2 linked regions of the Homo sapiens genome follow. The protein of the gene in region 1 purifies or fractionates together with the protein of each later gene. This does not show direct contact. Each region holds a gene or a part of one and is shown in the gene's direction. Other genes may lie near its edges.

Region 1 (8,308 bases):
TGCGTGTGGAGGAGCTAGCCAGGCATATGCAGAGCGTCACTTACAGCCGAACACAGCACTACTGCTTGCATGTTTAATGAGAATTGAGCAGTCTGGAAAACAAGTCACAAACTTGAGCTCTTGTTTGTTCATTTGTCTTGGTGCTGCTCCTTGTTCTTTGGAATAAATGCTTGTCACTTAGGAAGACTCAAGGTGGCCTATCGGTGAGTCCATGTTACTGGGGATGGTTGGCCCCTTCTTGAAGGCAGGGACAAAGAGCACAAGTTTGGCCACATGTAGTTCATTGCGTAAATAGTGATTTATTATTTCTCCACACTTGGGCCCTGGAGCCTCTGTGGCCCTGGCTCACGTACTGTTAGTCTAGAATGTATTCTTCATTTGCGCCGTGGTATGAGTTGCCTTCGTGCTTATTCTGACAGCTGTGGCTGATGACCTTGTGAAACACAGTGGCTGCCTTTGCCACACTGCACCCGTGCTTGTTAGTGGTTCTATGAGAACTGATCTTTAAGACCCCCCATTGCCAGTATTAGGCTGTGGTAAGTTTTTGGTGACTTCTTTTCTTAAATATTCTGTCAAAGTAACAATGTCTGCCGACAGCTCAGGTAGATGAAGGCATAGCTCATGTTTCATGCTTGGTTTGTATGTCTGCAGCTTTGCCAAATGCTTGAGATCTGATGAATTTTGAGACACGGGAAAGAATATAAATGAGAGGATTATGTAGTGGGGATTTACGTCATTTTTATGACTTAAAAGTTTTAATTTTTCAAAAGGTATTTTGTAAGTTTTAGGTAAAGGAAACATTTAACTATGGAAATTTACATAAATGTTGTATCATGCTACCACCAGTGCATTTTCCAGCCTGTGGCCAGGAAAGACAGAGCCTGCAGAGAAGAGAGGAGGAAATGGACAGTGTAAGAAGGATGCCAGTGAGGGGATTTTACTTCTGTACATAGCAGGGAAGGCTTTGGCAGCTTTCTGTGGCCAGAAGATAAGGGCGTTCCAGGGAAGGTTATTTTGACCTTTTCCCAAGATGGTTAACTGGCAGGGCATTTTGCTCCAGCTTTCATTTTCTTGGAAGTTTATTACTATTATTATTATTTTAAACAGGGGCATGAACATTTTATAGCTAGAAGAGACTGACAGGTTCATGGTGGGAAGGGAGGGAAGGCAGGAGGAAAGGAACCTTGTTCGCCTTTGGCTTGATAGTTTGAAGGTAGTGGTTTTTGATTACAAAACCTTTGCCTCAGGAGCGTGGCAGGAAGAGGGGGTAGATGAGCTAATGCTCAGAGAGGAGACAGCTGGATCCTGAGGTGGTTGTATTGTCTCTACCCCATTGGTTTGATGTGTGTCACTTAAAAAAAAATTAACATTCCAGAATAATACCTAAAGCATTGTATCCTTTTTTGCTCCTTCTGAATACATTAGAGCTACCTATAAATAAACTGTGTTTGAGAGTAGGAGCTATGATCTGAATTTTGAATTTTTTTTCTTGCATTTAGCTAACCAAGGGAATCCCAATGTAGATTCAAATGTCATTGTGGTCCTGGGCTTGTCTAGCTTCACCTTCACCCCAGTCTGAGGCACAGTCTTAAGAAATCCTTCAGTCCTCACCCCTGGGGTGGGTGGAGACAGCTGGCGTCCCTTGGGGATTTAGAAAACTCATACCTTAACTGATAAGCTAGGGTTGTAACCTTATGCCAGTGACATCAATGTTCACAATAGGTGAATATGTTGTAAAAATAAGAGCCAATAAGTATTATTTCACAGCCTAAATTAAAAAGTCCCTGATCTGTTTTTCCAGGAACAATCTTGTCTTAGTGATTTGGTAAGGTCTTGGTAACATCTGGAAATCTACTTTATAAATCACTTTATGATTCACTTTCCTTATTCTGCATATTATGTTAACATAACAAGTTATGCAATGTTAGCATTCCTATAAATATATTTATAGGTTTCTAAAGGGATCTTAATTGTAAATATTTATCCTCATTAGAGGGTAAGTTTTTTAACATATGCTAAGTTTTAGAGTGTAGTGTTTAATATATGAGGGACATCAGAATAGCCTAATACATTTATTGATTGATTATATGAAGCCCATTTAATCCTTGAAATACCCCTATGATGTAGATACTATTTTTCTTGCTGTGTTACAGATAAGGAAATTGCATATGGAGATATTTACCTAAGTTCATGTAATCGAAATTAGTGAAATTGAGATTTGCACTCAGATTCTAATGCCTACTGAGGCTTGTGCTATAAAGGGGATCTTTGTAACCTGGGGGAGTCACATCACAGACCTCTGTTGTAAGTGAGTTGACATTGGAGCCAGGCCTTACTATAGCTGTGGTCATCGGATTTCCTCAGAAACACTTGGGAGTGAAATAACGATGCCCCAGGTCCCCTTCCAGACTTTCTCCCAAACAGATCATGCCTATTTTGTGACTCTAATTGACTACCAAATTTTTTAAACATCGCATTTACAGTTTCAAATTTTAATTATTCCAAATCCCTATAGTAATTTGCTATGGGCTGGGTGATGTGAAAAGTCTTTTGAGTATGAAATCTAAGGTCAAATCCCAGCTATGACAATTCTTAAGAAAGTAGACAAAATATTTATACTTGAATCTGATCTCTTAAACTCTTGCTTGAGGAAGCCATTGGCTATGATCAACTTTTTATATTTAAATATATATATATTTGTATATGTATCATGTGCAAATGTGTGTGTAGGACTATGTGTAGGCATATAGATATACGAAGGTGTGTGGATACATATATTTATATGTGATTTGTTTATATTCCTTAAATATGCATAGATCTGTAATTGCTATGCTTTTACTCCTGGTGACATTTGGTCCAGTCCACTTTTAATTTGCTGAGGCAGGACTGGCTGTCTTACAGTTGCAACATGTAAATGTTTGGCTACTGGCGATATTTTTTAATTACCTTAAAGATTTTGGTTTAAGAGAACTTCATGAGTCAAAGTAAGAAATTTCCGAAATTTAGAGAGTTGTATGATTTTAACAGCCTGTTGGAATTCATGTGGATTTGGGGTGAGGATTTGGGAGGATTGGTTGGACATGATTAAAGTTTTTCAGTATGTTTTTGGTAGCCACAAAAGTTCCTTTCTGTTTGTAAGGTATAGACGTTATTCCCCCAAATATCATAGCATAGGGAGGCCATTAAAAAAAAAAAACTAACTTTTTATTTTAGAATAGCTTTAGATTTACAATAAAGTTGTAAAGATAGTACAGAGAGTTCCTATATTCCTGTACCCAGATTCCCTATTGTTTTTGTTTGTTTGTTTGTTTGTTTGTTTGTGAGACAGGGTCTTGCTCTGTTGCCCAGGCTGGACTGTAGCCTCGACCTCCCGTTCTCAGAGGATCTTCCCACCTCAGCCTCCTGAGGAGCTGGGCCACCAAGCTCAGCTAATCAAAAAAAAAAAAAAAAAAAAAAAAAAAAAAAATATATATATATATATGGTTGGGTTGGGTGTAGTGGTTCACACCTGTAATCCCAGCACTTTGGGAGGCCAAGGCAGGCAGATCCCTTGAGCCCAGGAATTCAAGACCAGCCTGGGCAACATGGTGAAACCCCATCTCTATTAGCAGTACCAAAATTAGCCGGGTGCAGTGGTGCACGCCTGTAATCCCGGCTACTTGGGAGGCTGAGGCACAAGAATCGCTTGAACCAGAAGGTGGAGGTTGCAATGAGTCGAGATCACGCCACTGCACTCCAGCCTGGGCGACAGAGTGAGACTCTGTCTCAAAAAAATATGTTTTGTAGAGACAAGGTCTCACTGTGTTGCCTAGGCTGCTCTTGCAATCCTGGGCTTAAGTGATCCTCCCACCTTGGCCTCCGAAGTGCTGGGATTACCAGCATGAGCCACCATGCCCAGCTGGATTCCCTAACATTAACATTTGATATTCCTGCAGTACATTTGTCACAACCAAAGAACCAACATTGGTACGTTACTATTAACTAAACCACACTTTATTCATATTTCACTAGCTTTTCCCTAATGTCCTTTTTCTGTTCCAAAATCCAAACTAGGATACCAATTACATTTTGTTGTCTTGTCTCCTTTGGCTCCTCTAGTCTATAGCAGTTTCTCAACTTTGTTTTTAATGACCTTGACAGTTTTGAGGAGCACTGGTCAGATATTTTGGTAGAATGTCCCTCAATTTTGATTCATTTGATGTTTTTCTCATTGTTGGATCGGGGTTGTGAAATTTCAAGAGGAAGGTCACAAGGGTCATTCTCATTACATCATATCAAAGGTACATGTTATTAACATGATGTCATTAATGACATTAATCTTGATCACCTGGCTGAGACACAGTCGTCAGGTCTCTCCATTGTAAAGTTACTCTTCCCCCTCTATACTCTCCTCATAAGAAGCAGAGTACTAAGTGCAGCCACATTCAAGAGGATGTTGGGAGTTAAACACCTTACATAGATACTCTCCACATCATATTCAACAGCATGTGGAGAATGTCTATGAAAGGTAGGGTATTTTTTATTCAGTAAATTGTAACCTGTACTCTGCTTTAAAAACATGCCTTGCCACTGTATTCTCTATGGTTTCTTTGTTTACTGAGTTTGTGGATGGTAAGTTCCTATACTAGAGAGATTTCCCAGGGCAGTGAGGATTTTAGGGCTGTATTTTTGACCTCCTCAATGTGTGTCTAATATGACACATCTGATGCAGTCCCCTGTCCAGAACCCATAGCTAAAATGAAGGGCAGGAAACACCAGCTAGCAAGAACTGGAGACCACAACTCTGGATATTAGGATTCCTGGGTAGGTAAGGATTTATTCTTTTAAACACCTCAACTTAAAAATATCTTGACCATTTTATAATGTAGTCCTTCTGAAATATATAATTTAACAGTTTTCTTAATGAGTGTGCTGGAATGATGTTTTCCTAATTTATAAGTTAGAACAGCTTTTTACTCTTCCACTGGAGGTCTAGACTGTAGCATTATTTGAGTTTTGATCTGTTTTTATTGTATTTTGAATCTTTTCTCTGTCAGCCATCATTTCTTGCTGCTATCAGTTTGCCTGCCTCCAGCAGTTTCCTTTCTGATTTGCTGTTTATAGCCTTCTGTTAATTTAGAATCCAGACAATGAAACTTGTTAGGAATGTATACAGAGGTAGTCAATACAGTATAAAATAGGATCTGAGAGCTGGAATTCTAAGCAAGTGTAAGCTCTAAGCATGTTAGTGAATGGCCTCCACCACATTTACGCAACTGCCCAGGAATTTTATTTTTCAAATTTTTTTTTGTTTTTGCTGGTTCTCACCTGTTGTGAAACGGTGAGACTGGCTTACTTGCATTATGGTTATTTCAGTAGGCCTGCTGCAGGCAAACTGCTTTATGTAGTGTGCCCTAAACACATTGTGGATGCCTACGAGTCCATGATTCAAATTTATAAAAATGTAGATATTGAGCCTTTTGAGTCAATATTTGATGTTTACAGAGAATTTAGTGATTGGTTTTTAAAATAGTATCCTAAATGCACAAAAATTAGCCTTCCCAGCAATGCATTTATATTTGTATATAAGATCCTAGTCACTGCTTTTGAAAATGACCAAAGCAGAGGCATAATACTTGCATTTAAAATTAAGCAAAGAAACAGCCAAAGCTAGAACATATAATATGCTTGAGAATTTATTTTAATCATGCTTTATTGGAAAAGTAGGAAAACCCTATACATAGAGTAAGAATTACAGATGGCTCTCACATTCTAACATGAATTTGGTATTGGATTGTGCATAGCTAGTTAATACACATCTATAGAGTCAGTACCAGAGGGAGATTAAAGTGCCAGGGTACTTCAGACCAGGACATAGATAAAACAAAGTGCAAACCAATTAGAACAGTTATATCATTAAGGATTAAAGATTTCTTAATGGTTAATTTAATTCATGTAGTAATTGTTTCCAGAGAGTCAACCCCTGCAGAGATACTAAGGAGAGTCTAAGGCTGTGTTGGTGGTGAAGCCACACCATGTAATCCAGACACAGACTCCTTTAGAATATTATTAATAATAGTTATCTGTAGGTGGTTTTAGGGGAAACAAAGTAGGATAATTAGAGGGATGATTTAAGGGAGCGGCTAGTAAGGGTATTGATAATGGTTCATTCAGGACCAGAACACATCCTTTACAGTACTTCCTGCAATTTGCAAAAGAAAGAAAAGCACCTCAGACTTTTAAGAATCCAGTGAGAGTAAATTCTCATATTTAATGGTGATTTTTGCTTTTTGGTGGATCCATATTGGGCCCAAATTGTTATAGACCAACTACAGCAGCTAATATGAGGTTTGGTAATCTAATATCCACTTTTCATCTTAATTCATTGACTTTCCTTATCGTGATAACTATAGTTTAAGAATGGAGATGTCAAATATAGGTCTCTTCCTTGTGAAGTAAACGACAGTTCATTTAACAGCAGTGGTGTGCTTGGTATCATTTCGTTGCATTTTGTTTGAACTCTAAAAATTATTCTTGAGAATAGCATTTTCATATTTCTGTCTTGATGATAGCAGTAATTCTGGATTTGCTTCTGTCTGTTTTTTGTTTTTAGTTTTTATGTTCCTGCTACAGATATTTTAAGTTTTACTTTTTATACTTACAAGCAGCAACATCAGATTTTTTTTCTATTGTAACACTTTTTCTGATTATAAAGAAATTTCTTTAAATAACATTCAGGAAATGTGTTTAAATAACACTTGGAAAATATAGGAATGGTATAAAAAAAGAAATTACCAACACCCCAATTATATAACCACTTGTTAATATTGTAATGTACTACTACTTTTATTCATATTTTTACATTATTGAAATACTATTGAACTGCACTTTTTAAAAATTAACATTATGAGTATTTTTCCATGGATGGTATGAATTCTTTGAAGACATATACATATGTTTTTTAATTGGCTAAAAAATGTTTTGTCATGTGAATGTGTTAAAATGTGTTATATCATATCTGTATTGTTGGCTGGTTCATTTCTAATTTCCGCTATTAAAAGCAATTCAGAGAACATCTTTTTGAGTTTTTTTTTTTCCTGTAATTCAGATACTTTTTTTGGATAATAGCGGTAGAAATTGACTTACTGGCTCAAACAATAGGACCATTTTTCTTCCTTTATTGACCTCCACTGAAAATAAATGTCATTGTACAACAAGTGCTAAATCATTCTTTTTCTTTTTTCCTCAGCTCACTACCCTGGGAAATCTTACACCTTCAAGCACTGTGTTTTTCTGCTGTGATATGCAGGAAAGGTTCAGACCAGCCATCAAGTATTTTGGGGATATTATTAGCGTGGGACAGAGATTGGTATGCTTGTTTACTTATTTGGTCATATTTGCTGAATCATCATATACACTCATATATACACATATATGTATATAGCTAATTGTTTTTGTGTTTGGTTATTTTTTTTCAGTTGCAAGGGGCCCGGATTTTAGGAATTCCTGTTATTGTAACAGAACAATACCCTAAAGGTCTTGGGAGCACGGTTCAAGAAATTGATTTAACAGGTGTAAAACTGGTACTTCCAAAGACCAAGTTTTCAATGGTATTACCAGAAGTAGAAGCGGCATTAGCAGAGATTCCCGGAGTCAGGAGTGTTGTATTATTTGGAGTAGAAGTAAGTACCTGTTACTATCATTTAGGCACAATATTATTTATAGAAAACTCAATATTTGTGGAATGTAATTTCATATATGGTATGCCAGGTAGGCAGTAATAATGAGGAAAGGTAGCCACCATGTATTATGTTCACTATTTGCATGGCACTGATCTGAACATTTTATAGCTGTTTATTTATTAAGTCCCTTAAGCCAAGTAAGAGCTAAATACTCAGTAGTCTCCCCATATTAAAGAGGATACTAAAATACCGAGATGTTGTGTAACTGACTTGAATGTATGTAAGCTGATTGATTCTTGGTCCTGTATTTTTAACTACTACTTTTGGAATACATTTTCACCAAAGGCATTATTTTAATGTATGTGTTGTAGGATTTCAGTTAGGTCATATTTTTGTGCTAGAAGAACCTTGGAGGTCATGTAGTTCATTGTCCTTCAAATCATGTATGTATCTTTTTACAGGGGAAAAATACTAATGGATTCCTATTGCTGATTTCAATTGATTTATTCCTAGCTTTTAAACAACTATTAAACTAAAATTTTAAAAATTAAGAAAAAACCACTAAAACAATGAAATCAAAATATTAATTTAATGTGATTATGACAATTTGAAGGTAACTTTTATAGTAGTAGGTTTTAACAGTAGAA
Region 2 (4,018 bases), on another chromosome or scaffold:
GCCCCTGGCCCCTCTGGAGCTCAGCAGGGAGCCCCATGCCCTTCCAGGTGTGGAGAGCAGCCTGCGTGTCACTGGCTGCCGCCAGATCTTACGGAGCCTCCCAGAGCACAACTACGTCGTCCTCCGCTACCTCATGGGCTTCCTGCATGCGGTGAGTGGGGAAGGGGGGAGCTTGGGGTGAAGCCCAGTGGCCTTCCCTCCCATGCTGGGCCCGCATGGACCAGTCCCCTCCTTGCCCTGGGTCTGGGGTCATGCCCTGCTTGGGCCTCGGAATACCACTCCCTGCCCCCCAAGGACCTCATCCAAGGCCTGGTCAGGCACCCATGCTGCTGCGGACCTCCTGCCTGTCAGACAGGGCGTACCTGCCCCTGCCTGCTCCTGTACCTGCTGTCCCTCAGCCATTGCCAGTGACTTTTGTTATTGGGGTCCTCTGCCCCCATGTCATTTCCTGCTTGGGCTGAGTCTCTAGGAGGTGGGAGCTGTGTCCACCACTGGTACAGAGCCCAGTGGACTGAGCTGACCATTCCTGGGGAAGGGATACACCCAGAACCACGTACATTAAGTTCCTGTGACTGCATCGTGGGTGCCTTAAAACAGATTTACTGTGTCACTCTTCTAGAGGCTAGCAGTCCAAAAGCAAGGTGTGGCGGGCTGTGCTCCTTCCAGAGGCTCTAGGGAAGGTTCCCCTTCCTGGCCTCTCCCAGCTCCTGGTCACTCCAGCTATGCCTCCAGCTCCCCCCTGGCCTTTGTCTGTGTGTGTGTCTAATCTCCCTCCACCTTTCCCTCCTAAGTGTGGACCCCCTGCCATATGTCACTGGGTTTAGGACCCACCCAGATGACGCGGGATGATCTCATCTTGAGATCCTCAACGACAGCTGCAACGGCCCTCGTTCCAAATAAGGTCACAGTCAGATTCTCTGTGGTCTATCTTAGAGGGGCCACCATTCAATCTACTACACACCAGGCTAAGCAAATGACCAGAGAGAGAGAAACCCTTCAGTGCTCTGGGCCTGGGCTTAGTGTGCTCTCCCCCTGGGGCAGGGATCCATTTGGAGCAAAAACCTGTGCAGCCAACAGGGGAAGGTTCAACACATCCACGTGGGTCCACCCCCAACCCCCAGACCCACGGCCTTGAATGTTTAACCCCCTCCATCTCTCCAGGCCTTCGCCCCAGGCTGTGCAGGGTGAGGAGAGCCTGAGCAGAGTAGGCGTCACATCCCAGAGTCTGTTGGAGAATGTCACTTCTTGGTTTTACAACAATTTTTTTTCTCCCTGTTGCTTGACATAATTTCTCAGAGGCCCAAAACTAAACTCTCCTAATTCTCTCAAAAAAATTTTTTGAGACAGTCTTGCTCTGTTGCCCTAGCTGGTGTGCACTGGTGCAATCTCAGCTCACTGCAACCCCAGCCTCCCACGTAGCTGGGATTACAGGTGAGAACCACCATGCCCGGCTAATTTTTGTTTTTTTAGTAGAGATGGGGTTTCGTCACATTGGCCAGGCTGATCTTGAACTCCTGACCTCAGGTGATCCACCTGCCTCGGCCTCTTAAGAGTGCTGGGATTACAGGTGTGAGCCACTGCACCCAGCCTACTTCTTTTTCATTAGGAGAGACTGATTTCTCTCTCTAGCCGCCACCTCCATGGGCACCGATGTGAATGCACCTGGTGGGGTGTGGTGTTGCGTGTTATCACCCCAGTGGCACCTGGGGGCCTCGGCTTGAGGAGGGGTGGCCTGCAGTGGGCCTGGCTGGTGCACACCTGCAACGGGCTTGGGGGACCGGCAGCCAGGGGGAGCCTGAAAGGCATCCAGCCATCTCACCTGAGCATCCTCAACAGATCTGTGAGGGTGGTGCCTGGCCCTGCCTCCCTCCAGTTCTCTGCTCTGCCCTGGTACTCACCGCCTCATGACCCCTGTTTCTGACTGAGGTTCCCCCCAGCTTGAATCTTGTAGGGAGGCAAGGAGCAGAGAACAGGCCCTGCCCTCACGTTGGTCCACATGGCCCCCTGCCACTGGCTGGCCACATGACCTTGGGCAAGTCTCCTGTACCTTCCAGGCCCCAGATTCCTCATCTGTAAGATGGGGAGTAATGACTCCCCCGTGCTGGGGTTGCACGTGTTGGCGGAGATGGACAAGGAGCCCCTTCTAGCAGGCAAGCTCTTTCCACTCTCCCTGCCCCTCGTAGTGGCCCCTAGATGTGCTGGCTGGTCCCCATCATGCCCAGTTCGCCACTCACAGAGCCGAGGCCAGAGAGGTCACCAAGTTCGTACCGTCTGTGCTACAGCCCATCCCCAAGATTGCATCTCCCCAGAAGGTGCAGTGGAAGAGGAGATAGTGGGGGGTTGAGGCTGTCACAGAAGGTCAGAGCCAGAGGGTCCTCCAGGACATGGAGGCCAAGCCTTCCTTTTAGAGATAGGGTAACTAAGGCCCTGAGTGGGCAGGTGGCTGCACAGGGTCCCCATTACTGGCTGCCGGCTCCCAGTCCAGTGCTCCTCTCACTACACCTACGCCTCTCCCTAAGTTCGGGAGGGAGTTCCAGGTGCCCGTGCCCCTTGGTGTTCACTCCCCTTTACTTGTGTGTGGTTTCCTCCAGGTGTCCCGGGAGAGCATCTTCAACAAAATGAACAGCTCTAACCTGGCCTGTGTCTTCGGGCTGAATTTGATCTGGCCATCCCAGGGGGTCTCCTCCCTGAGTGCCCTTGTGCCCCTGAACATGTTCACTGAACTGCTGATCGAGTACTATGAAAAGATCTTCAGCACCCCGGAGGCACCTGGGGAGCACGGCCTGGCACCATGGGAACAGGGGAGCAGGGCAGCCCCTTTGCAGGAGGCTGTGCCACGGACACAAGCCACGGGCCTCACCAAGCCTACCCTACCTCCGAGTCCCCTGATGGCAGCCAGAAGACGTCTCTAGTGTTGCGAACACTCTGTATATTTCGAGCTACCTCCCACACCTGTCTGTGCACTTGTATGTTTTGTAAACTTGGCATCTGTAAAAATAACCAGCCATTAGATGAATTCAGAACCTTCTAATGAAAACTCCATGCCTCTGGTCCTTGGACTCTTGTCCATGGTTCCTGAGCTGTGGACCGGGATAGAATAATGCATTTGTTAGGATGGATGTTTTGAATCCCAACCCAATGTGGTTTAACTGAAAACAGGAATGGAGTGGCTAACGGCTGCCAGGTCCTGCTGCTGCCACACTGCTGTGTAACACACCACCTAAGCCCAGTCACTGAAAGTTACTGCCCAGGAGTCAGTGGGTCAGCTGGGTGGTTCTATTGGTCTTTTGAGGGGGTCACTTACATGTCCTGGCTGAGCTGGCTGGCAGCTGGGGTGACTCTGTTCTCCCCCAGGTGTCCCAAGTCCTTCCAATGGCCAAACGGGGCACATTCTTACAACATAGGTCCAGGTGCACACACAAGCGCTATTGCAAGCAGTTTTCATGCTTTGACTGGCGTCCTGTATGCTCACATCTCATTGGCCAAAGCAAGCCTGGTGGCCAAGGCCAGGGTCACAGAGGGAGGGCCCTGCAAAGGGGGTGGATATGGGGAGGGTGAAGAATTGGGCATAAAGCAGCCAAGCTGCCCGAGGGCTCTGGGGTGCGACAGGACTCTGCAGTCTCAGGCAGGCTGACTCTTGGGCTGGCAAAACGGGCCCTGTATTTCCATCAGATATGGTAGAGAAGGATACAACTTCTTAGTGCCACAGTCCCAGCAAAAAAGCCCCAGGTTCACCCTGATTGGACAAGCCTAGGTCACATGCTCACCTTAGACCCATTGCTGCAGCCAGGGAAGGCTCTGATTGGCTTAGGCCTGAGTCTTGTGCCCCACCCAGACCAGGCAGTGGGGGAGGAGTGGCAGGCCGCTGCAGGGGATTACCCACGAGTCCCACGCTGCCGTCTCCCCAGCTCTTGATGCAGGGAGAAGCGGGGGAGGTTCTGGGGAGCAAAGGACAAAAGTCCCCTCTACAGATCCCCCATGGTGGCCCCTCCGTGCCTGCTTGGGGTGTTGACCGAGT

Evidence for each region.
Region 2: the proteins of ISOC1 (region 1) and ARHGAP8 purify together in Homo sapiens (affinity purification with mass spectrometry; 2 studies listed by BioGRID and IntAct, with this or other methods). This does not show direct contact.

What each region holds. Positions count from the first base shown.
Region 1 is NC_000005.10:129,097,728-129,106,035, forward strand, and holds part of ISOC1 (isochorismatase domain-containing protein 1), read left to right. Parts: exon of another isoform or gene 1-39; intron 40-7,228; coding exon 7,229-7,348; intron 7,349-7,457; coding exon 7,458-7,661; intron 7,662-8,308.
Region 2 is NC_000022.11:44,859,684-44,863,701, forward strand, and holds the end of ARHGAP8 (rho GTPase-activating protein 8), read left to right. Parts: intron 1-47; coding exon 48-151; intron 152-2,591; coding exon 2,592-2,912; 3' UTR 2,913-3,101; downstream 3,102-4,018. Other genes in the region: PRR5-ARHGAP8 fusion protein, read left to right, coding at 48-151, 2,592-2,912.